Linked DNA regions of Homo sapiens. The protein of the gene in region 4 interacts with the protein of the main gene of each other region in a biochemical or structural test. Each region holds a gene or a part of one and is shown on either strand. Other genes may lie near its edges.

The links. Proteins that work in one complex are often made in the same cells at the same time.
Region 1: the proteins of SIRPA (region 4) and TBX3 form a complex in vitro, tested with the Homo sapiens proteins (one large-scale study listed by BioGRID).
Region 2: the proteins of SIRPA (region 4) and KRT10 form a complex in vitro, tested with the Homo sapiens proteins (one large-scale study listed by BioGRID).
Region 3: the proteins of SIRPA (region 4) and NUCB1 form a complex in vitro, tested with the Homo sapiens proteins (one large-scale study listed by BioGRID).

What each region holds. Positions count from the first base shown.
Region 1 is NC_000012.12:114,669,261-114,673,194, forward strand, and holds the end of TBX3 (T-box transcription factor TBX3), read right to left. Parts: intron 3,043-3,934; coding exon 2,581-3,042; 3' UTR 995-2,580; downstream 1-994.
Region 2 is NC_000017.11:40,819,321-40,825,110, forward strand, and holds the start of KRT10 (keratin, type I cytoskeletal 10), read right to left. Parts: upstream 3,295-5,790; 5' UTR 3,266-3,294; coding exon 2,639-3,265; intron 1,798-2,638; coding exon 1,715-1,797; intron 1,348-1,714; coding exon 1,191-1,347; intron 1,104-1,190; coding exon 942-1,103; intron 855-941; coding exon 729-854; intron 415-728; coding exon 197-414; intron 1-196. UniProt on the Homo sapiens protein: Plays a role in the establishment of the epidermal barrier on plantar skin.
Region 3 is NC_000019.10:48,909,083-48,914,305, reverse strand, and holds part of NUCB1 (nucleobindin-1 precursor), read right to left. Parts: intron 3,377-5,223; exon of another isoform or gene 3,158-3,376; coding exon 3,054-3,157; intron 1,296-3,053; coding exon 1,110-1,295; intron 833-1,109; coding exon 742-832; intron 1-741. UniProt on the Homo sapiens protein: Major calcium-binding protein of the Golgi which may have a role in calcium homeostasis. Acts as a non-receptor guanine nucleotide exchange factor which binds to and activates alpha subunits of guanine nucleotide-binding proteins (G proteins).
Region 4 is NC_000020.11:1,911,502-1,916,724, reverse strand, and holds part of SIRPA (tyrosine-protein phosphatase non-receptor type substrate 1 isoform 1 precursor), read right to left. Parts: exon of another isoform or gene 2,403-5,223; coding exon of another isoform or gene 2,324-2,402; intron 1,627-2,323; coding exon 1,270-1,626; intron 1-1,269. UniProt on the Homo sapiens protein: Immunoglobulin-like cell surface receptor for CD47. Acts as docking protein and induces translocation of PTPN6, PTPN11 and other binding partners from the cytosol to the plasma membrane.

The DNA.
Region 1 (3,934 bases), on a different chromosome or scaffold from region 4:
GTGCCGCCCCCGCCCCCCAACAGACACACACCTCGGAGGCGAGGCTGGGGGTCGGGAGACCAAAAGACTGACAGTGCCTCATCATTTTTTATTGAATGTTTCAAAGATAAATTGAACTTCAAAAGGCAACTCCCCGAACAGCCTGGAGACGGGTTTGAAGGGGAGACTAGGGGAGGATGTCAGCCTCCTGGGTGACTTTTGCCGTGGAGGGGGTGAAATGTGCACCCTGGAATTACCTTTCCCCTTTCGGGGATAATTTCCCTCCTCCCTCGCGTGACACAGCTAAGTTTTCGCGGAGCTGGCCGCGCTTTGCACGCACAACTCGGGATGGATGGGGCCTCGTAGGGGCGCCTTGGGCCAGCCGGGTTCAATTTGAGGCACCAGGGACTGCAGGCTGTGTGGGGGGTTGCCGAGTGGAAAGGCGTTGCGTCTTGTCCACTTCTACAACCTGGAGGGTTGCTGCCTAGCCAAGCCCGCTCGGACTGCTGGGGCATTCTGCTGGCCTTTTCCCCGAGCCAAACACACTGGTGCAAGAAGGTATTTTCGACTTGGATTCGCCAGATTGATGTCAAAACTGAGGGCGAGCTTAAAACGAAAAACATTCGTACTTGCCGAGCTTACTTTTGGTCGGATTCGGGTGGGAAAACCTGACTTAGGGAGCACATCAGTCTTTTTCCATTAAAACTTAAAAGTATCTGAAATTACCCTTCTTTCTGTATTCTCATCAGGCCCCTTTCCGTCTCCCTGCTTTGCTCCCTAATTTAAAGGAAAAGTAATTTCAGATTGAAGTGGCTCCCTTCGCTCAAGTAAGGGACTTTTGTTTTTAGCTTTGTAACTTGAGTGACATCTCATTTTGGTTCGCTGGGGGCGGTCTTAATTATTTAAAGGCGAAGGGAAGGGGGTAAACTCAGAACAAGAAGATACTAAACCCTCCCCTGACTGTCCATCTTCAGGAAAGGTTCCCAAAGAAAAAACATTTAACACAAGGCCCAAAGACATTTCAATAAAAATTTATTGAAATTTCAGTGATGTTTTAAAGAGAGGGGGAAAAATACAGAAAACCAAAGAACTCATCAACAACTATAACACAAAATATACCTTCATGAATTTGTCTTTAAACCATCTCTCAGCACCTGACTTTTGAACTGTGAATATATCTCTATAGGCAGGCACCAATTCAAAACACCGATACTGACAACAGTAGTAAATTCCACTTCGTTTTGAGGAAATCAGAGACTAGCAAATACAAATAACAAAAGAAAAATTAAAAAGTCAAACCGCAGCCTCTGCCCTCCTCCCTCCCCACAGCAATCTCAGTTATATTTTAAGGAATTTGAAGTGGAGCTGGAAAGTGGCACTCCTTCCCCAATTTTGGTGAAAATAGGAAATAGCACTTTCCCCCACTTTTGGACATTAAAAAAGAAAACAAAAATGTTGCAGACAACTCTTTTGAAAGGGTATTGGTGTTGGTGCAGGAAGTGTGTTTTCTAGTGTTAACAGCAATTCTGTGACCTGGAAATAAACCCAACTAAAGGAAAACAAGAACACAAAACCTGACAGTTGCAATTCTATTTACACAGAGCTATGTACAATGTCAATAAATTAAAGTTTAATTTTCCAAGCATTCATATTCCACCTATTTACAAGAGTTATCAAATAATTACATAAATACTTTGTCTAATAGTCTCACTTCTTTATTATTTTTTTAAAACCTTGTTATTGCATATACAGGAAAGAGAAAGAACTGTCAAAGAACGACATGAATCCTGCTACAGAGCTTAGATATAATAAATTCATTTTATGTGTTTTGCCCACTCCTTCCCTTTAAATCCCCCCCTCCCTTGGGTCACTGATTTGAGGGCAAAGGATTGGGAAAAGGGTAGGGGGCTATATTGTTTTCTCTCTAAAAGCAAGCGTTCAAAATAAAAACCACAAATACATTACTGTGGACATGCAAGAAGAGACCTACAGCGGCTCTGAAAACATCACAAGAATATTAAAAAGACACAGATTTTCTTAATATAGACTAAACAAGGATGGTAGGGACTTCCCTCCCCAAACAAAGCTGCTCAGTAATTTATTGAGAACCGATAATGCAAGTCCCTATAAAGTTTTTAATCTGCACAAACAGAATCATGTTAATGTGTTCACTTGTCCCGATTTTTTTTTTGAAAGATTTTGTTTTTGTTTCCACTTGACACAGTGAAGGAAAAATATATATATAAATCCGCACTGAGGGAGATGTCTTTGAACACCTCCCCGCCTGGTGGGCAGAGACCCAGACCAGCCTTGCTGGAAGTTGCTCTGGACATAAATGTTGGAACTCCTACCCCCAGTAGCTCAATGCAACCGACGTTTCTGAGCCCCCAGAATCTGATCCAGATCCCGGACATATAAACCACGCCAAGAAGACAGGGGCTGTCTCTAGCACATTCTCTCGAGGGAGTCCGGGGCCCCTTCCCAGACGCAACTGCAAAAGGAAGGGCTAACGCCATGGCGGGCCCGTGGTTTATTTTATATCCGACAAAGTGCACGGCAGCCTGAACTGGACTGGAATGAAAAGACGTGTCTGGGACGGGTCTACGGGGACGCGCTGCGGGACCTGTCCGGCTTGGCTTCCAAGCCGCTAACCAACCGCTGGATGCTCTGCAGTTCGCTGGTGGCCGCCTCTTTCTCCGCGCAGAGTTTGGGCGACAAGGACATGGAGCTGGAGGAGAGCGTGGAGGAGCGGCTGTTGAGTTCAGAGCCCGAGTCCACTGCCACCGAGGCCGGGCTGGCGGCCAGGGCGGCGACTTTGCCGTCCAGGGGCCCCGCGGCCGCCGCCATGGAGGGCAGGGCGGTGGTGAGCAGACTGCTGCCGTCCGGGACCGGCACCGGGATGGAGTAGGGGCTGTAGCGCAGCCGCGGGCGCATGGTGTTCAGATTGAGGAAGGGGTGGCGGTGCACCGAGCTGGAGGCTGCCGCAGAGGAGGCGGCCGCCGCTGCGGCCATGTACGTGTAGGGGTAAGGGAACAGGCTTCCGAAAGGGGACATGGCCAGGCCCTGGGGTGAGAAAAGAGACACACAGCGAGTCAGCCGGGTGGGAGGAGCTTATCTCATCCCTCTCCTCTCTTCTCCCCCTCCAACATTGGGCAAGCCATGAATCCCTGGTATGTTCTGTTGTTGTTGTTGTTGTGTTTTTTTTTTTGGGGGGGGAGATAGGTGGGGGCAGGAGAGAAGTCAACACTCAGAAATCTCTAGGTACAAATCTTAGCTGTGTCACCCTAGGCCAAGAGACTTTGATTAACTTGTGCCTCAGCTTCCTTATAGGAAGAAAAAACAGGGAAATCATAAGTAATTCATATACTTATTGAGGACTTTGTAGATATTAAATGAGTGAAAGCCTGCAATATGCTGCACACAGTGTGTGCAGCCCCCAGGAAATCTCCTTGCACCTGTTAAATGGGGATACAGATTCAGTTTACCCCACAGAGGTAACCAAGGGGAAGCCGGAGGACATAAATTAGTAGGAATAATTTTTTAAATCTTTCTTCTTCCCCAACCCCCATCCTCCCACCCCAATCCTAGAAGTTTCTCCAAACAAAACAAAACAAAACAAAAAAAACAGACAGTGAAGATCTTAAGCAAAAGGAAACTGGGGCTGGGGGAGGGAAAAAGGGCATTTGTTATAAACAGAGACAAAGAAATCGTCCAGCATGATTCACTGGTGTTCCAGGTGAGAAGCCGAGGTAGGCCGCAGGAGTTCAGGAGTGCACTAAGCTGGGAATTGGCAGAAGCAGCATTTAAGATGCAGGCACCCTGGCCTGGGCCAGTTCTCTGCATCATGCCTTGAGGTGCCCTTAAGGTTTTGTCTGTTCAGGTAGTCCTTGGTGTACCAACCACCTGCCCACCTAGGACAGGGTCTCCCGGAGAAGCCAGCAGAGGAGATGGGAGG
Region 2 (5,790 bases), on a different chromosome or scaffold from region 4:
TCACAGAACTCTTAAGAATCATTTTGGGCCAAATTCATGAGAAAGTGAGATTGCGGTTGCGTACTCCTTTTTCTGTACTCTACCCTCTCTCCTCCCTTCCTCTCATTCTCTGGCATCTTCTTGGGGTTTAGATAAGCCTTGCTATCTGGAATATTGAATAAAAGAAACTGGGATAACTTTTCATTTTAAAATTTACCTTCCCTCTCCTTCTAGCAGGCTGCGGTAGGTTTGAATTTCATTCTCCAGTCGGATCTTAATATCCAGGAGTTGTTGGTATTCAGTATTCTGGCACTCGGTTTCAGCTCGAATCTGTTGCAACTGTTCTTCCAGAGCGGATATCTGGGCCTGAATCTGTGAGAGCTGCACACAGTAGCGACCTTCTGTTTCTGCCAAGGAGGCTTCCAGGGATTGTTTCTGAAACGGATTTTTTTGTGGCTTAGTGACTTCCTTGTTCAGTTGAGTATGGTGACGCTTATTTGATTATTTAGTAAGGCATTATATAGAAGAATAAGAAAATGAACAGAATTTGTTGTATGTTTAATGGCACCATTTCAGTTTCAGCACTTTTAGATCAACACTAGTAGTACTTTTCCTCCATTAACATGAGCTTCACTTTGTTTTCTCTTTCTTACCTCCAACTCTGCATTTTTTTGTTGCATTGCATATTCTTAGGTGAGCATGAAACTTTGTATGATAAAGTTGAAGTCATTTCATGAGAGTTAACATACCAAGGCCAGTTGGGACTGTAGTTCTATCTCCAGAGCTTGTACATTACGTCTCAATTCAGTAATCTCAGATTTATAGCTGGATATCTGTTCAATGTTATTATCAATTTCTGTAGTCAGTTCCTTGCTCTAGAGTATTAAAAACAAGGAAAAGGGTGAGGAAATTCTGAAATGATAAAACCTCCATGAGTTTCACTATAAGGAAGATTACTTTACCTTTTCATTGAACCAGGCTTCAGCATCTTTGCGGTTTTGTTCAGCAAGTTGTTCATATTGGCTTCTCATGTTATTCAGAAGTTGAGTCAGATCAACACCCGGGGCAGCATTCATTTCCACATTCACATCACCAGTGGACACATTTCGAAGGTCTTTCATTTCCTGTTTGAGGAACAGAAAGATTTATTGGCTACACGAGGACCATAATGAACTCTCTTTTGGCTGGGAAAAGTATAACTTTTGTGTCACCTCCTCGTGGTTCTTCTTCAGATAGGCCAGCTCTTCAGTCAGGCTCTCAATTTGCATCTCCAGGTCAGCCTTGGTCAGGGTCAGCTCATCCAGCACCCTACGCAGGCCGTTGATGTCAGCCTCCACGCTCTGGCGCAGAGCTACCTCATTCTCATACCTGAAACAAGCATGATATCAATACTGGTTATAACTTATATAGGGGAGATGTATCTGGGCAGAGACTATTTAAAAAGCAGCTACATAGTTGATCTCATGTAATGGCAATATTTGTCATGTACAGTTCTCTTAGAAGTAATAGTGGTTTAATGGAAAAAACCTTAGCAGTTACTTTAAAATGCATTTTCTTCCTTTAATATTGCCAAAAAGGTAACACTGACATGGAAAATTTCTCAGATAACTCCAATACTATTTAACTTTGGGTGAATTCAGAAAAATGTAAATGTTATTGAGGGCATCCCAAGTCATTGTTAAAAACCACTGATGTATTCGTTGTGATAGTATTATACAACGATCACTTAACTTACTTCAGCCTGAAGTCATCAGCTGCCAGCCTGGCATTGTCGATCTGAAGCAGGATGTTGGCATTATCAGTTGTTAGGTTGAGAATCTGGAGGGAGAGGCACAGTTATTTGAGAAGAGGTCAGATGCAGATATGGCTTTTGTAGTGACATAGATGCACTCTGCACTTTTATGTTGTTCTCTTACAAAATCTTGGGAAAATTTTTTATTTTAAATATGAAATATTGCAGGCTTACCCATATACTTAACTTTGAATTATTTGTTCTCTTGGAATTTCTCCAGTCTTGTATTTCTGTACACGAATTATTCCTTTCTGAAAACTAACTGGAATTATATAGATGTATTCCTGTAAGTGTGCCCTCCTCTTTTAGACTATGTGATTTCCATGTATTTCAGCCATGCTTTGGCTGACTCACACCTGCATTTGTTTAACTCATGATAAATACTAATAAATAAATACACTCTGAACTGGTACACAATAGGTACAATTCAGAAATTCCTTAGAGGCAAGCAGTGTCCCATTTTCATACTGGAAAATTTATTTTTCTTGCCATGTTGGTACTGAATATGGCTTGTTATCAGTCTGAATAACATTTTGTTCTGATTCATATCATGATTTTTTTTTTCAGTTTCTACATTTGTAAATAGCCTAGCATATTTTAACTGTGGACTCATTGTATGCTCATTAAAACCTCAAAAGTGCTTAGTAAATCTCCCATCCTCTTAAGACAAGTAGCACACTTGCTGGATGAAGATTGCCATGACCATAGTTTCACAGATGTTTATCTTTGATGAGACTGGGTTATTTTTGAAGGAAGAAAGTAACATGGGTAAGCATAGTGAACAGCCACATTGTGCTTAATTTAAGATTCATCTGTCTGGATTACATGGACAAGATACTTAAAGCTGGATTTAAAAATACCTCTTACCTGATTTTTAAGGTCATCGATGGTTTTGTAGTATTTGCTGTAGTCACGAGGCTCCCCCTGATGTGAGTTGCCATGCTTTTCATACCACTCCTTGATTTTGCCTTCCAGCTCATAGTTTGATTCTTCCAGAGCCCGAACTTTGTCCAAGTAGGAAGCCAGGCGGTCATTCAGATTCTGCATGGTTACTTTTTCATTTCCAGAGAGAAGGCCACCATCTCCTCCAAATCCACCACCAAAGCCTCCTCCAAAGCCGCCTCCACCAAAGCCGCCTCCACCAAAGCTGCCCCCACCAAAGCTGCCACCTCCGAAACTGCCCCCTCCAAAGATGCCTCCATAACTCCCACCAAAGCTGCTACTTCCATAGCTTCCACGAAAGCTACCTCCACCAAAACCTCCTAATCCTCCATAGCCACCTGATGAGCCCCCAAAGCAGCCCCCACCAGAGCTCCCACGGCTAAAAGAGCCACCACTGAACCCCCCTGAGCTAAATCCTCCACCAAGGGAGCCTTTGCTGCTAGAAATTCTTAGGGATGACACTCCTCCTCCTCCTCCACATCCTCCTCCTCCTCCTCCTCCTCCACTGCGGGAGGAAGAGTAGTGCTTGCTTGAGCTGTATCGAACAGACATGGTGATGCTGTTTAGCCCAGGGAGTGCCTGCTACCAAGGACAGTGACAAGCCTTTATATACTGAGAGGGTGTGTCCACATGTGTTAGAGTTTGCTTACTTACATTGTTTTCTTTTTGCCAACTTAGCATCTTTGGCTTATGATTGCATAAATTATCTTCAGTAATAACCAATCCTAATATGTACAATTTTGAATTTGCCCTAAGAATAAACAGGAGGTTTGCTATGTTGAAATTGAAAATGGGTGGAGTTCAGATGAGCATGTTTTATTATGCTTTTCACCTGTTGAAGAACATTGAGCAACCGTTAAGATCCATTTTTCTCAGCACTAATTCAGGTTGCATAGAATGTTTGCAAAGTTTAGAAAAAAAAGTTTCAGCTACAAAATTATAGTTAAAATAAGATTTTTCAAATTCATGTTTTAAACAGTTTTAATTGGAGCAACAAATAGCATAAAGTCTGGCAGGATCATGCTACAATAAGGTTCTTGTAGACAACTGTAGGGAATCAAAAAGAAAAAGTTTCTAAAAATTTAACTAGCATCAATAGTTGCCACACATAAAACATTAAAGCCATAAAACCACAATTTAGGAGATTGTGTTTGTAGGAGATCTTTTAATTTATTTGGCAAATGAGAGTATATTGATATTTTGCCTAAGAAAGTGGAAGTAATGATTTTAGAATTTTCTAATTAATGATGGCATTATTTTTAACATTAAAAAATCTGAAATCATAAAGTTATCCTGGATTATTTTGCACTTTTAAATTCATCATAGTTAAGGTTTCTGTGAAGACCATAATAATGCAGAAAATCTGCATTATTTTCTTAGCATGAAATCCGAAGAACTAACTTGTAGTACTTTACACTAAGTTCTGATTGAGTAAAAAGGGAAAATTTGGATATGTTATGATTGCAAGTAAAAATTTGCTTGCAAAAATGTAAATCTATATTAGAGAATGATACTTGCACCAAATATTATGAACTAGACTGTGCACATGTGTTCCCAAGCTAGGTTCAGTTTCTCAATAAAAACAACACATTTTCTTGGATATACTGTGTACAGAATTTGGTATAACAGTTTGTCTAGTGAAGTAAATTGGGATTTTGGTACATTGTATAAGATTATATCTACCCATAGGCTATGACATTGCTGTTGTTTGGATGTATATATTCATACATGTTTTACAATTATGTAGTGCTGTTTGTGATACTGTGCTTTAAAAATTTCTAGAACAAGCTGTTGAGATAGGAATGGTGGTTATTATTATTTCTTTTCTTTCTTTCTTTCTTTCTTTCTTTTTTTTTTTTTAGACGGAGGCTTGCTCTGTCGCCCAGGCTGGAGTGCAGTGGCGCCATCTCGGCTCACTGCAAGCTCCACCTCCCGGGTTCACGCCATTCTCCTGCCTCAGCCTCCCGAGTAGCTGGGGCTACAGGTGTGTGCCACCATACCTGGCTAATTTTTTGTCTTTTTGGTAGAGACAGGGTTTCATCATGTTAGCCAGGATGGTCTCAATCTCCTGACCTCTTGATCTGCCTGCCTTGGCCTCCCAAAGTGCTGGGGTTACAGGTGTGGTTATTGTTATTTCTAATTTATAGAAGAGGAAGTTGAAGTTGAGAGGTTGTGATTTTTTCCTGAAGATATGTAACAGGTGGTTGAACTGCAATTAGAAGCTTGGTCTTTTAACTCCTTGGTTCTTTTCCACTTTACCAATGTGTATATATATTATCTGCTCCAGTGGATTTGGTCTAATGGAGATGAATGACTCTAATTCTCACCGTAAACTTCTCCAAATGGGGAAAAAGAGCAAAACAAAAAGAACTTAGAATCATGAAAATATTCAAAGGGTAATGATTTGGCACACACTCTACCTTTAGTAATTGTTTTTTCAAATTAAGTTTATTGCTGCACATTTTGGTTTATGAAAACTACAGAAATAGTTTCTGTAGGGAAGGGAGTGTGGTTGGGAGCATTAATCAAATGTTGATTGTTAAAGTGGAGGTTACTACCCAGCAGATTGCAACTCTTCCAACTTGTTAGCACATGCAAATGGGGCAGTAGTTAAAAGAAAAACTGAAACCCAACCATGGGAATTGATTCTTGATGAAGATAACCTACAGTTAAAGAAGGCTATGATAAATCAGGATAGGAAAAGAAAAAACTCCAATAACTTCAGAGAACATGTTGAAACCTTGATATTAATGAAATCTTTTTGGAAAGAAACATTTTAATTAAAAAGATATTTTGATTGATTTTACCTGTAATTAGCACAAGTTTTGGATCTTAGTATTACCAATTTTGTTTTAGTATTAGCCTATAATTTCTCCCCCCAGTGGAAAATATAAAAATCCCAGTCTCCTTTCAGTTAATTAACAAGTGGTATGAAGAGAGCTCTGTTACAATCATATTAAACCAAAGAATATATGAAAGGGAATCTTTGCATAAAAGTACATAAGAACAAATACAGGTATGGAGGGCCTTCTAATACTATAACATTTAATTTAAGCTACCTTTACTGTTATTACCAA
Region 3 (5,223 bases), on a different chromosome or scaffold from region 4:
CTTTGATCCACCATAGAGAAAGGGCTTTCGAGGCCGGGCGCAGTGACTCACGCCTGTAATCCTAGCACTTTGGGATGCTGAGGGGGCAGATCACACGAGGTTGGGAGTTCGAGACCAGCCTGGCCAACATGGTGAAACCCCATCTCTACTAAAAATACAAAAGTTAGCCGGGCATGGTGGTGCATGCCTGTAATCCCAGCTACTCGGGAGGCTGAGGCAGGAGAATCACTTGAACCCGGGAGGCGGAGGGCAGGGGGTTGCAGTGAGCCGAGGTCATGCCACTGCACTCCAGCCTGGGCAACAGAGCAAGACTCCATCTCAAAAAAAAAAAAAAAAAGGAAAAAGAAAAAGAGAAAGGGTTTTCCAGGCTTCTGGAGGCCTGGTTCTTAGGGAACAACCCACTCCTAGCGACAGGGTTCCCAGAGTGGACCAGGGCTTCTCCTGGGCTGCTGTGGGCAGAGGGCCCAGGCCTAGCCAAGCCTGGTTTGCTTACAGAGGACACCAGCTGTCCTTAGAACCCCGAGGTCTGGTGTTTGCTAGAAAAGAGGCCCAACCCTTCCATGCAGATCCTAGCCTTGTAGTCGGGAGAGGCAGGGCTGTCTGGTCAACCAGGGGACATAGGCTTGGCTCTTGGGCCTGACTAAGCCCTCCTGGGACAGACACACCCCTCTTAGCATTCAGGTCCTAGAAGGGTCAGAATCTAGGGTTCATCCTGGCTCTGGAACTCCCTCCCCACCTTACCATGCAGTATGAAGAAGGTCTTGGGGTTAAACCTGTTGGGGTCCAGTCCATCCAGCTCCTCCCACACCTCCTTCAACTGGGCTTGGCTGCCCTGTGGAGGGGAGAGCCAGGAGCTCATGAGCAAGAAGTCTGGATGCCATGGGATAAAACCAAATATCCCTTTACCCTCATCCAACAAACATCATCTCCCTCAAGCAAGAAAACTAAGAAAACTACAACTCCCAGCAGACCCTGGGGCAGCCAGGTACAGTAACAGGGAGTTTTTTTGCCTCAAGGGCCCCTGGGAATTGTAGTTCTTTAACTGCTTTCTTGTCTTGCGTTTGAACTGGATGTGGTAGGGAGTGGATGGGCACAAATGGGGTCCTCACAGGCACGTTGACTTTAGGGTGCTCGCGGTGCCGGCGCTGTTGCTCTTCCAGCTTCCTCTCCGCCTCCTTTCTCTGCTCCTCTCCCAGTGACTCCAGATAACGCCGTCTCTCGTGTTCCTTAAGCATCTCGTAGCGCTTGAACTCTTCATGATGGGCTGCGTCGTACTGGGCAAGGTCCCGGGTGGCCTGGGGAAAGGCACAGGGTCATTCCCCTCTGCCCCCTCTGCCCAGCCCCCAATTCCAGCCTGTAAATGGCAGGCCCTTGGCCCTGAACCTGGCTGAGGGCAGCCCCAGCCTCTACCTGTCTTTCTTACGTCTCGTGTCCTAATGTCCCTTTTTTTTTTTTTTTTTTTGAGAGGGAGTCTTGCTCTGTTGCCCAGGCTGGAGTGCGGTGGCACAATCTCTGCTCACTGCCTCACTTCAACCTCTGTCTTCCGGGTTCAAGTGATTCTCCTGCCTCGGCCTTTCGAGTAGCTGGGATTATAGGCATGTGTCACCAGGCCCAGCTGATTTTTGTATTTTTAGTAGAAACGAGGTTTCACCATGTTGGCCAGGCTGGTCTCAAACTCCTGACCTCAGGTGATCCGCCCACGTCAGCCTCCCAAAGTGCTGGGATTATAGGCGTGAGCCATCGCGCACAGCCTGATGTCGCCCTTTTTGGTTTCCATGACTGCTCCTGCCCCATAACACACTTTCTTCTCTTTATTCAAAACAGATTGGGACGGTTATACAATAGCAACTTCAACCCACCTCTTTCAAGTCCTCCACAATCTCCAGATCTTGGAGGAATAAGTAAATAGGAACAACATATGTGGTGAACTTAGTATTTATGTATTTCAGGTACAGCTAGGTGGCCAAGAACATAAGGTCAGACTAGGAGAGGTGGGTCACGCCTGGAATCCTAGCACTTTGGGAGGCTAGGGTGGGAGGATCACTCGAGCCCGGGAGTTCAAGACTAACTCACATAACACAGCGAGACCTTGTGTCTACTAAAAATTTTTAAAATTAGCCTGGTGCGGTGGCTTGCACCTCTGGTCCCAGCTACTCAGGAGGGTCAGGTGGGAGGATTGCTTGAGCCCAGGAGGTTGAGGCTGCAGTGAGCTGTGATCATGCCACTGCACTCCAGCCTGGGCATCAGAGCAAGACGCTGTCTCAGGTAAAAAAAAAAAAAAAAAAAGTAAAAATAAACCAAAAAAAGAACAAGAGGTTTCTAACTATTTTGCCCAGCGTTCAAATCTAGGCTTTGCTTTGTGACCAAATCTCATAAGCTCTGTGACACTGGGCAAGTTACTCAGCCTCTTTGTGCCTCAGTTTCCACCTCTGTAAAATGGAGTTAACAATACCAGGTTGAACAGTATACTCCCCCCACACTCCCAAATTCATGTCCACCTGGAATCTCAGAATGTGATCTTATTTGGAAATAGAGTGTTTGCAGATGTAATTAGTTAAGATGATGGCCTGCTAGATTACGGTGGGTATCACTATAAGAAGAGCTGGGTGCGGTGGCTGACACTTGTAATCCCAGCACTTTGGGAGGCTGAGGCGGGTGGATCACCTGAGGTCAGGAGTTCGAGACCAGCCTGGCCAACATGGTGAAACCCTGTCTCTACTAAAAATACAAAAATTTTCTGGGCGTGACGGCAGGCACCTGTAATCCTAGCTACTCGGGAGGCTGAGGCAGGAGAATCGCTTGAACCCGGGAGGCGGAGGTTGCAGTGAGCCGAGATTGTGCCATTGCACTCCAGCCTGGGGGAAAACAGCGAGATTTCGTCTCAAAAAAAAAAAAAAAAAGAAAAGAAAAGAAACGACTCAGCCCTCTACCAGCCTCCAACCTCAGAGAACACCAGCAGGAATGGTGAGCTGGCTCACGTCTGGGACTCTGTCCCCTTCTCCCCTTCCGCAAAGCTACCCTCAATCCTCTGCCTCCGGACCCACTCCCATTACCGTCTGGATCAGCAGCTCCAGGTCGCGGGCCTCGAATGTATGCTGGTTCTGAGGGTCCAGGTGTTCAAACTGTTTCAGGAGATTCAGATGATCCACCTGTACATCTGGAAGAGAGGGAAGAGTCCAACACCTGAGGGCATGTTCTTTCAGAACCCCCATCTTGGGCCAGACATGATCCAAAGAAGTCACGGACAGCACTAGGGAAGCCCAGAAGACAGCTTGAACCTGGGGCAATCAGGGAAGGCTTCCTGGAGGAGGTGATCCCACGACTGAGTCTGATGCTTACAATAATAACCATAATAAAAACTAACATGTAGTGCCTACTTACTAGATGCCAGGCCATGCCCTAAGCACTTTAACTGTATTAATTCATTCACTTTCCACAAAATCCTGACAACAAGGGTTTTATGATTATCCCCATTTTATGAATGTGAAAACTGAGACCCCTTGAGGGGTTGTGACTGGTCTAGGGTACCAGCTAGCAAGTGGCAGAGCAAGGATGGGAACCAGCCATTGGACATCCAAAAACCATGACACTCAACCATTTCTTTTTTTCTTTTCCTTCTTTTTTTTTTTTTTTGAGACAGGGTTTCACTCTGCAGTGGCAGGATCTCGGCTCGCTGCAACCTCCGCCTCCCAGGCTCAAGCAATCCTCCTGCCTCAGCCCCGAGTAACTGGGACTACAGGTGCATGCCACCACACTCGGCTAATTTTTGTATTTTTAGTAGAAACAGAAACAGGGTTTCACCATGTTGGCCAGGCTGGTCTTGAACTCCTGACCTCAGGTGATCCACCCACCTCGGCCTCCCAAAGTGTTGTGATTACAGGTGTGAGCCACCACGCCCAGCCTCAACCACTCTTTAAAAAAAACAAACAAGGCTGGGTGCGGTGGCTCACGCCTGTAATCCCAGCACTTTGGGAGGCCAAGGGGGGCGGATCACAAGATCAAGAGATTGAGACCATCCTGGCCAACATGGTGAAACCCCATCTCTAATAAAAACATAAAAAATTAGCTGGGCATGGTGGTGCGCACCTGTAGCCCCAGCTACTTGGGAGGCTGAGGCAGGGGAATCACTGGAACCTGGGAGGCGGAGGTTGCAGTGAGCCGAGATCACGCCACTGCACCAGCCTGGTGACAGAGTGAGACTCCGTCTGAAAAATAAATAAATAAAATAAATACATACATACAAACAAAAGAAAAACATCAAAATTTTTGATAAAGCATCAACCAATCTTAGGGGTTAAATTGCACGCTCCTAAGTTTCTATGTTGAAGTCCTAAGCCCCAGTACCTCAGAATGTGACCTGATTTGGAGACTAGGTCTTTACAGAGGGAATCAGGTTAAGATGAGGTCATTACTGTGGGCCCTAATCCAACATGATTGGTGACCTTATAAAAGGCAGAAATTTATGACTGGGCACAGTGGCTCATGCCTGTAATCCCAGCACTTTGGGAGACTGAGGTGGGAGGATCACTTGGGCTCAGGCATTCGAGACCAGCGTGGGCAACATGGTGAAACCCCATCTCTACAAAAAATATAAAAATTAGCTGTGTGCAGTGGTGTGTGCCTGTAGTCCCAGCTGCTCAGGAGGCTAAGGCAGGAGAATCACTTGAGCGTGGGAGGGGGAGGATGCAGTGAGCCGAGATCGCACCACTGCACTCTAGCCTGGAGGATAGAAGTGAAACCCTGTCTCAAAATAATAATAGGCCGGGCGCGGTGGCTCACACCTGTAATCCTAGCACTTTGGGAGGCCAAGGCGGGTGGATCACCTGAGGTCAGGAATTCGAAACCAGCCTGCCCAACATGGCAAAACTCCATCTGTACTAAAAATACAAAATTATCCAGGCGTGGTGGCGCGTGCTTGTAATCCCAGCTACTTAGGAGTCTGAGGCAGGAGAATCGCTTGAACCTGGGAGGCAGAGGTTGCAGTGAGCTGAGATCGCGCCACCGCACTCCAGCCTGGGCAACGAGAGCAAAACTCTGTCTTGGAAAAAAAAAAAAATAATAATAATAATAATTAATAAAAAATAATAATGGAAGGAGAAATTTGGGCCAGGCACACAGAGAGGAAAGATGGTGTGAAAATGCAGTGAGAAGACGGCCATCTGCAAGCCAAGGAGAGGGGCCTGGTACAGATCCTCCCTCATAGCCCCAGAAGGAACCAACCCT
Region 4 (5,223 bases):
AGATGGTAAAATAAATCTGGTATTTCCATAAGCTGGAGTATTCTGTAGCTATTACACAATGGAGCAGGTCTCTATCCTGATATGAAATCTCAGTATCAAATGATATGGCTTACATTTGGGAGCGGTTTTCCAATCACCAGTGGGCCTAACGGTCTGAATGTGAATATTCTGAACCTTTAGGAAACTGATGGAAAGGAGAAGTGCTGGCTTCCTGCTTAGCAGTTCTGTTCAAGGAGCTTTCAGTCGGCACCTATGATGCACCAGGCTCTTCTATGTAAACAATGGCTAATGAAGGAGCCTCCCTGGAATCAGATGTGGGCTCTGGTCCAGATCCTGTCACTAACTGGGCCTATGACTGTGGACAAGGCCCCTGTCATCTCCTGACTTCAAGTTTCCACCTGTAACTAGGGGTTGGGCTGGATGGTCTGAGGGTCCTTCCTGTACTAATGTCCCAGGATTCGGAGTTAGAACAAGGATCCTGGGGCTCTGGCAGTAAATACAAAATGAGCATCTTTGCTGCCTTAACGGAGGAACCCAAAGTCACCTAGAAGGGAGACCTCCTCCCTGGGGTGAGAGACATTCTATGATGACCCAGCTTTGTTCAGAGCCTTTAGTGACGCATGAATCAGTCCCTAAATCACACAAGTGTTTTTCTAAAAGACCCACAGAAAATGCCCAACCCTCTGGCTTCTCCTCTCACCAGGGCCATCAGATTAAACAGTAAATCTGTGCCTTTTAGGAATCTTCTCAGTTGGTGTTTGGTGATGAAATAAAGGAAACACACCCTCTCTGCTCCCTGCCCTGGGTGGATCTCTTATTGGAAGGGATGAGAACACAAGCTTGGCGGAGCCTGGCACACAGTAGGTTCTCAGTGAGTGCCTGTCACATAGAGGAGACTCGGCTGCCCTGAGAGGGAAGTGCTCTCTGGAGGCAGCAGGTGAGGTCTGGTCCTGTGCCTGGGCAAGTCACACTATCTGTCAGTTTCCTCATCTGTGGAATGAAAGGGCTGGGTCAGCTTTGAAGAGGCCAGGGCTACACAGCCAGGCAGATGAAGGATGCAGATGTTCCCACCCTTTACCAGCTGTGGAGCCTTCAGCAAATAGCATGACGTCTTCAGGCCTCAACTTCCCTTATTTGTAAAAGGGGGAGACATCAATTCATGGAAAGGAGCACCTACCACCACACCTGATCATTGCTCAAAGAATGGAGGGTGTTATTATTGAGTTACTGTCACAAACCAGAGGCAAAGGAGGCCCACGCTGTACTCACCGCGCACAGACAGCTCAGTGCCTGCTCCAGACTTAAACTCCACGTCATCGGGGCTCCCTTTCCGGAACTTCACACAGTAGTAGGTGCCGGCATCTGCTGGGGTGATGTTACCGATGCGGATGGAAAAGTCCATGTTGTTTCTCTTTGTGAGGTCTGAAACAGTTGTTACCCGGGGGAAGTGGCCTTCTTTTTGATTGTAGATTAATTCCCGGCCTGGTCCAGCTCCTCTGAACCACTGGATGGGCCCCACAGGGATCAGAGAGGTCGCAGTGCAGCGCAGAGTGGCTGTCTCTCCAGCTGCAACCAACACGGACTTGTCAGGCTGAATCACCTGCAGCTCCTCCTCACCCGCCACTCCTGGAAAGGAGCACAAAGCAGTCATTTTTTCATCCTTACGTGATCCTCTGTGTTTCCTCAAGTGTTTATCAATGACGTTCATTGACTGGATGCACACCAGAAGCAGGCTGTGAGATCAGTATAGTGCATGTATCATCTCATTTGACCCTCACAACAAACCTGCAACATGAGCCTGTATTCTAAGTGGGGACACTGAGGCACAGAAAGCTAAATGACATGGCAGAGAGTGGGTTTGAATGCCTGGACCCTCTCTGGAAGAGTCACATCTGAGCTGGGCTAATTCTAATCTGAATGAGCCAGAAGGGAGCCTGGTATTCCAGACAGAGGGAACAGCCTGGGCAAAGACTCAGAGGTAGGGGCCTGGCATATCTGGGGCTGTACAAGGTGTTAAGATTCTGTTTCTGGCCTGGCCCAGGATGCAGGCCCCGAGAAGGGAGGCTGTACTCAGCGGTTTGGGCAGTAGGAGAATGTAGTTTGAGTTCTGGATCAGTGGCCTATAGCTGTGTCCTTGGGCCACCACTCAGGTAACCAAGAATATCCAATGTAGACTCGTGCCAGTGTGTTTGAGTCCCCACCTGGAACCCAGGACTGAGCCTGGCTAGCAAAGTGTCACACAAATGCAAGAGCTGCCCTTAGTTTGCCCTTACTGCTCTCAGCCTTGGTTTCTTCATCTGTAAAATAGTTACTATGACCCCACCTCGATGGATCTCTGGGAGGATAAAATAAGCCAAGGCTGGGGACAGCGTCCAAATGCAGCATCTGGTCTTTAGAGTCATCGGACCTGGTTTGAAACCTGGCTCGCCCCTTGTTCTTGTGGGACCTTAATTTATCCATCAGTTTTGAGTCTCAGTTTTCTTATCTACAGGATGGGTAGAACAGCCCCCAGGCCTCTGCTTTGTTCTGAAAAGAAAACGAGATCACACATAGAAGTCACTTAGCCCTGAGATGGGCCCTGAGGAAGTTGTTGTTACTATACATTGAATAAACAAGGAGGTGGCTGTGGCTCAAACTTCACTCTCACCAACACCTGCTGATGCCCTGTGATCCAGGCCTCACTGTGATGGGGACACACTGGAGCTGGACCCAGTCCAGGCCTCAAGGGCTCCCAAATGGGCAGCTGGAAGGAATTGTAGAGGTTGGCTGCAGGAGCCTGAGCCCCAATCAGAGACACTGGGGCACACAAGACAGGGACCCTGGGTGGAGAGATTGGGGTGCACGGGGGGAGCCCAGACAGGAAGAGGGCAGGACGAGCTTGTCATGAGATGCGTTGAAGATGGATAGGGACCAAGTGAGAACAGTTCAGAGCAAGGCAGAGCCAGGGCCTCGATTCTGAACAAGGTGAGGTACAAGAAACAAAAAAAAGAAAGATCATGATCATAAAGACCTCAGAGAAACACATGCCTGAGAGACAGACGCAGAGTGAGAGAGCGAGCTAGAATAGGGGAGAAGGAGAGAACCAGGTAGACAGAGGAGTGGCAGCTACCTGGTATGCAGGTGACAGGTGACCTGGGGCCCCAGTTGGGCTCTCCACTGACCCTTCATGTGACCTTGTCCTGCCCTGACCTGGGCCACCTTTGCCTTGTACATCAGACAAGGCTGCGGCAGATGTCCAGAGCTGCTGTGCCCCTCTGGCTCTGGCTGGGGAGGAGAGAGACCCTGTGAATTTGCCCACCAACCCATGGCCTGGCACCACCCCACTGGCAGGGGCAGGGCAGCCAGGGAAAGAGGCTCACAGACCCCTATCTGCCCTCACTGCAGGAAGCCCAGGGCTATCTGCCCATTGTCCTGCCTCTTTCTCCCATTCCCAGCCTCACCCAGTCTTGACTCTGGCAAGGGATCACCCTTGGGGCCCGGTTCTCATGGCAGGTGAGTGGAGTCTCAGAGTGCCTAAGACCACTCCACCTGCTTTGGGTGTAAATATTACCATTTCGACTTCCTTTTCCTGATCAACCACTTAAGACCTCAACTGCTTTTATTATCAGGAAGTCCAGCTTCTCATTTCATTTCCATTTGAAGTTGAACATGGCAAGATCTTCATGGCACAGGAGAAAAAAACAGAACCCACAGTGGACAGACAGAACCCACAGTGGACAGAGGCCCAGCCAGCATCAGACGGCCTGAGAGGGGTGAGGCTGGTGGCCAAATGTGTGGGAGGCCCGGGAGGCCCATCCAGGCGGGGACATCAGAGGCAGCACCAGCAGCACTGAGCTAGGAACTTTCCGGATAGGTCTGTATTTCAGCCTCGAGACTGGACCAACTGGAAAGGCTGCCTCGGGGAAGCACAGTTGCTAGGGCCAGCAGGCCTGGGTGACAGCATGGCTCCCCTCTTAGCCACCTCTGTACCCACCTTCCCTGGACCCCCATTCCATCATCCATGAAGTGGGGTTCCGGCATCCACCCCAGCACAGTCATGAGGACCCTGACACGGTGGTATGCCTGCTGCATAGGTGCTGGGTAAGTTTTAATTCTTATTCCCATTATTATCACATAGCTGTATTATTCACATATTTGATTTTCTCTGGATTGTCACATTCCCAATAGTAGGATGTAGGATCCACAAGGGACTGTTTCCAACCTCCTGCCTAAAACACAGTGTCATCGATAAAAATATGCAGAATGAATGCGGTAATGAATGAAGGAAGGAAGGATGTCGTTGGCTCCATGACCCTGGGCAAATCTCCTCTCTCTTCATGTGTTAGGTGGAGTTGATACTGGCATATCCAGGGGAGGGTGCAGGCCCGGAGCCCGGGACTCAGCCTGGCTTGCAGTTATTATTATCCTTATCAATAACACCACAAGGGGCTGTGAGTCAGCAGTTGGTGAGGGAGCAGGAGGCGCAGGAGAGGCTGCGGAGTCAGGCGTGCAGCATGTTGGAGCAGGGCTATTCTTGTGGTGCAGCCGGAGGCCTGTAATCACACCCCAGGCAGGCGACAATAAAATCTGGAGTTGTGTAGCGCTGGCTCCCCCATTTTTTTTTTAGCTCCTCTCGAGCTCTCTCCACCGACTGCAGCCAGATTTAGGCGGCTTAATTAATTAGCTAGTGTTTATAAAGCGTTTGAAGAATTTTAAAAGTGCGACGTAAGTGCCAAATATTATTTTAATCTGTGTATGTGTATGTTTTTTCCAGTAGAGAGGGGTTTTTTTTTTTTTTTCCTTGCTTGCTTTCTTTTTCTCTGCAGGTTCTGTTCTGAGAATCAGGCTTGTTAAAAATCACTCCTGGCTCTGGGTCTGGGGTCACTTGCTGGCCAAATTATTTCCTGCTTTCTCTTGCCCTCCTAGCAGAGGATGCGACTGTCCAGGGGCCTGAACCGTCTCAGGGAGAGGAGGGCGGCTGGGCAGGCATTCCCACGCACTGCCGGTGGGAGGGGAAATTGGAACATCTTTTCGGGAAAGCAGCTTGGCAGGATGAACCAAAGGTGTGAAATCTGTTCACCAGCCTTTGCTGGGCTGCTCCCTGAGGACGTAACCCCAGATATGGAGTAGGTTTCCTGTATAACGATCTTAAAGACATTAGAAAAAGCCCAGCCGGTCAATGATAGGGGATGGTTAAGTGAATTACGGCCTATCCCCTATGTGGAATTACAGGCAGCCGTAACA